Regions from separate parts of the Homo sapiens genome. Here region 1 is linked to region 2. The links come from fine-mapping of genetic effects on gene expression. Tissue or cell type: whole blood. Region 2 holds a variant in brackets; the other region holds the start of a gene. All regions are shown on one strand. Distances are from middle to middle.

What was found. PIP is the estimated chance that this variant, and not a neighbour inherited with it, causes the effect.
Region 1: TASL starts here. The variant in region 2 is fine-mapped to the expression of TASL in whole blood (TOPMed, PIP above 0.99).

What each region holds. Positions count from the first base shown.
Region 1 is chrX:30,576,146-30,578,812 of GRCh38, forward strand. It overlaps TASL (TLR adaptor interacting with endolysosomal SLC15A4), which reads right to left and starts at 1,621. Exons shown (of 3, transcript NM_025159.3): 1 at 1,493-1,621; 2 at 607-721. RefSeq lists an enhancer at 1,643-1,852.
Region 2 is chrX:30,612,395-30,615,246 of GRCh38, forward strand. No RefSeq gene overlaps it. Among named protein-coding and RNA genes, the nearest start is that of TASL, 36 kb to the left of the region's middle. The variant C/T (reference allele first, on the strand shown) is at 1,578.

The DNA of each region.
Region 1 (2,667 bases), 36 kb before region 2:
ATTCTAAAGGACATGTGGATAATTAGGAAAATTTGAATGTGTATCACATCTTAGATAATAGTATTGTGTTGATGTTATGTTTCCGTGGTGTTGTAATGTGTTATAGAAGACTGCCTTTATTTTTAGGAGATACATGCTCAAGAATTTAGGGGTGACATGTGTCCTAAAGTCAGCAACATACTTTCAAACCATTCAGGGAAAAAACTGTGCATATGTGCATGCGTGTGTGTGAATATATATATACACATATAGAGAGAGAGAAAAGGACAGGCAGAGACAGAGAAAGACAAAGCGAGAGAGAAAGTAAATGTGGCAAAAAGATACCACTGATTAATACACATGATGAAAATATGGGTGTTCGTTGTACTATTCTTTCAATTTTTATATAGATTTGAAACATTTCTAAATAAAAATTGGGAGGGGGAAAAAACCATATTTAGTTAATGAAGGCATATTTACATTGTATAATGTTTATTAAGAGCCTAGAGGGACAATATCTTATATATCTAAAATAATCACTACATATGAGATGAGAAATGTCTCAGTGACTTGATATAAATACTTCAAACATCATTTTGCTCTGAGATAATAGAATTAGTGTACTACCTTTGAATATCTCCAAAATTCCACTTATGATATGGATGTTTGACACAGACTTCAAATACTCTTCAATCCTCCAGAAGCTTCTCAAGCTCAGAAACAATCTTCTTCTCACACTGACCTATGCAAGAAATGTTATAAAATATCAATATAAATATTCTGTCCAAACCAGGTCTATATTTAAGCACAGATTCATATGCGCAAGACAAAGAATGTTTGAGCGAGTCTAAAGATAATTCAAACAAAACTCCACTCGTACATGCGCTATCTTTAATACCAAAAGGGAAGCTTTCCCCAAATCACCCAGATGAAAGTCGAAAAGCATCCTCACTATAGATCGCATTCATTTTGAATACATCCTGCCACACAGAAAAACACTATCACAAGCTTGCTGAACTGAATAATTGAGAGTCAAATCCAATTGGAAAGGACTGTGATTGTTTTCGTCTCTAAAACTGCATCACCGTAACTGAATTCAAGAGCTGTGTTGTCCCTGCAAAACCCTGCTTAGGTTTTTAGGCCTTCTTTTAAAAATGCAGAAGCTAAACCAGTGTGGCAATTAGTGAAAGAGGACTGCAAAAATAACACAATAAATATTTGCTCAGATCAGTCAAAAATTGTAGGTAAAAATATAAGTGTTTTAGAAATGCTTAGAATGTGGACACGAGGAGGTAAGGAAAGGAAGTATTGGGCTTAATTTCTCTTTATTTTTCAACTCCACTGAATGCTTGTTTAAACTCCCACTTGTCTCTGATATGGTAAGCTAGAAAAGCATTTTAGATGTCATAAGAATGGATCAGCGCTCTCGTGATAAAGGGCTAAGAAAGCGTGAGAAGACAGATGACAAAAAATAATAGCGGAGTTCTAGGGTCCTTTGCTTTCTTTTTCTTACCTTCACTAACCAATCTGCTCATCTGATCCGGCAGAAACACAGCAACTGACCAAACAGAGAGATGAACAAGCCAGCCAATGCTCTTTCCAGAAATTTTCACAAGCCTTTCACTGATGAGACCAGTAGACTGAGCTGCTCAGTGCAAAGCCATTCTTTTTATAATTGGTCCCATGGAAAAAGAGTTGTTTTTGTTCAAGTCCGATTTGTGCTAAAGAGGCAGTGGGAAGTCCCGGGAGGTGGGGAGGCAGTAACTGACAAAGCCACATCAAGCCACAGAATGGTGTTTCTTCCCCTTTTTCGAAAAATGAAACCTATCTACGAAACTGTCTCTTATTAAAATAGTTTATGGTTACACATTTTGTAAGAACCCTAGCAACAGAATTAAATTTCCTTTCTAGAAAAGTACATTATCTGGGATCCTTCACCCAAAAGAAAGCCAAAGTCACATATGACTTTAGGAAATTCTGTTTCGTTACTAATCTATAATTTTTAAGAAGTATTATTTCTCAATGGTACTTATAATTTTTAAAAATGTAAATGAAAAAAATTTTCTCGGCCGGGCGCAGTGGCTCACGCCTGTAATCCCAGCACTTTGGGAGGCCGAGGCAGGTGGATCAGGAGGTCAGGAAATCGAGACCATCCTGGCAAACACGGCGAAACCTCGTCTCTCCTAAAAATACAAAAAATTAGCCGGGCGCGGTGGCGGGCGCCTGTGGTCCCAGCTACTCGGGAGGCTGAGGCAGGAGAATGGCGTGAACCCGGGAAGTGGAGCTTGCAGTGAGCCGAGATCGCGCCACTGCACTCCAGCCTGGGCGACAGGGCGAGACTCCGTCTCAAAAGAAAAAAAAAAGAAAAAAGTTTTCCCTCTCCAAATACCGAAGGTCAAAACAATAATACATGGTGTGGGCAAAGTTGTGAAGAAACAAGCACTCTCAAACACTACTGATGAGATTGTAAACATATTTAGAGGGCAATTTCCCAGTATCTCTCAAATACAAATATTCATACCCTTTGACCCAACAATTGTATTTTTTATAAATTTGTCCAAGCTATATGTTTACACTTGTACACAAAGACTTATGTGAAAAGATATTTGTTGCAGCATTGCTTGAGAAAATAAATGACTAGAAAAAATTATATCCATAAATAAGATATTGGCCAAGTAAATGAGAACG
Region 2 (2,852 bases):
TGAGCCGAGATTGCACCATTGCACTCCAGCTTGGGCAACAAGAGCAACACTCCATCTCAAAAAAAAAAAAAATCATGATTGTAGCCTACACTTGGATCTATGCCTAATAAAACAGTCAAGTATGACTGAAGCAAAAACAGTTTACACACACCTTTTGTGATTTATTGGTTACTCAAAGGGAGTCCAGTCCATAGTGTGAAAAGTGAATTGCTGCAGAGATGAAAAGAGGTGTGTCTAGAGGAAGTCCTTGTAGCAGTGTTTTGTTCCTGCTCGGTCTGAGCCTTTGAATAGATCCTGAAACGTTATATCAAATCCTCTCTCAAAGCACCATTATATGAATGAACAAATAATTTATTGAAAACTAAAACTAAACTAAATTAAGATCCCTGGGAAAAGAAAATCAATACTCCAGAACAATGGATCCAAAGCTCAACTAGGCTAACATAATTCTCAAAGTTCTAGCTTTTAGGCCACTTCAATTTGTCTATCAATGCAGCATTGAACTGCTGACAAATTAGGGAGACATAGTCTCCACCCACAAGCTGCTGTTTATAAACACCAGATGTTTCTGGAACTACCACTTCTGCTAAAAAGGTTTAACTTCCCCTCGTAAATTAATAAGAAATAAGAATTGCAAAAATTGGAATATATTCTCAAAGTATTCCTGAACTTGTGGGATAACTAATAACGAGTATACTTATCTTTAAAGTTTTGGCCGGGCGCGGTGGCTCACGCCTGTAATCCCAGCACTTTGGGAGGCCGAGGCGGGGAGATCACGAAGTCAGGAGATCGAGACCATCCTGGCTAACACGGTGAAACCCTGTCTCTACTAAAAATACAAAAACAAAAAATTAGCCGGGCATGGTGGCCGGCACTGCAGTCCCAGCTACTCGGGAGGCTGAGGCGTGAGAGTGGCGTGAACCCGGGAGGCGGAGCCTGCAGTGAGCGGAGATTGCACCACTGCGCTACAGCCCGGGTGACAGAGCGAGACTCTGTCTCAAAAAAATAAATAAATAAAGTTCTGCAGATAAGCAATTCTATGAATATTGAATGTCTTTTTAACCTATAAGAAGATACCACTCTTGATTGATTTTCTTTTTGGGAGTGCCTAGGTTCAATTTAAAGGTTCTCTGCATGAGATACGCCAATTGATGTAAAGGTTGGTTTTTTAAAAAATTTTAATTTCACTGCTTCCTCATTCCTCTGTGTGTGTATACACACTCGCTAGTGATTTCTTTTCTTAGAATAGAAATTATGAATATCATTTTAAAAAGAGCTGTTTCTGCTAACCTTACAAAATATATTTAATTTGCTGTTTAAATGAAATAGCAAACTTTCTCAAACTTACAGATGCCTCTTGAGCCTTGGATTTCCATTTCTATTTGCTGCGTTTCTGAGTCTCTGTTATCACTATTTGGTGTGAAAACATACACGTCATTTTGGCTTATGATTCAGAAAAGACAGTTTTTTTTATCACAGTTTCTCCAGAGTTCACGTTAATAATGCAACATTTGAACTTCTGCTTCTAGTCAAGATGGAGTAACGGGGACCAAATTTACAGGGACAAAACTGTAAAA[C/T]AGCAGTTTTCAAGACATTGGACATTGGGCAATGGACAATCATCGCTGAGAAACAGGAAACAAACTAAGTGAGCCCTATAATTGCCCCAGGCAATTGAATCCAATTATATATAAAATGGAAAATACATCATGAACAAGTGGGGTTCATCCCAGGAATGCAAGATTGGTTTAGCATTCAAAACTTAATCAATAAAACTCAACAGACTAGGAATAGAAGGGAACCTCCTCAACCTAATAAAAGGCATTTATGAAAAAACCTACCGTTAACCTCATTAATGATGAAAGACTGAATGTTTTCTGCCTAAGATCAGGAACAAGGCAAGGATCCACTCTCACCAATTCTATTCAAAATTATACTGGAAGATGCAGCCAGTGAAATAGGGCAAAAATGAAAGGCATTCATATTGTACGGGAAGAATAAAACTGTCTTTATTCACAAATGACATTCCTGTCTATGCAGAAAGTCCTGTGAAATCTACAAGAAAAATACTAGAATAAATGAGTTTAGCAAAGTTGTAGGATACAAGATAAAGAATGAAAAATAAATTGTGTTTTCTATATACTAGCAATGAAAATGGGAAATTTAAATTATAAATTATAACAATATCATTTACAGTGACAACAAAAATATAAAATACTATCATGTCTGTAATCCCAGCATTTTGGGAGGCCAAGGCAGGCAGATCACTTGAGCCCAGGAGTTCGAGACCAGCTTGGGCAACATGGCGAAACCCTATCTCTACAAAATAATCCAATAAAAATTAGCCTAGTGTGGCGGTGTGCACCTGTAGTCCCAGGTACTTGGGAGGCTGAGATGGGAGGGTCACCTGAGCCCAGGTGGTTAAGGCTGTGGTGGGCCATGATCCCACCACTGCACTCCAGCCTGGGCAATAGAGTGAGACCCTATCTCAAGCATATATATATATGCTTTGTTAGGGATAAACCTGACAAAGTGCATGTGATACCTACACACTGAAAACTAAAAAACATTGCTGAGATAAATGAAAGAAGACCTAAATAAATGCAGAAATATACCATGTTCATTGATTGAAAGACTCAATATTGTGAAGACATCTCTTTGAAACAAACCCAATAAGATGTCAGCATGATTGTCTTTAAAGCTTAACAGGATGATTCTAAAATTAATATAGAAATGCAAAGAACCTAGAATGCCTCAAATATCTTTGAAAAGTAGGAAACAAGTTGGAGGACTTATAATACTTATATTACTTGATTTGTAGGAGGACATATTACTTGACTTCAATAGTGACCCCT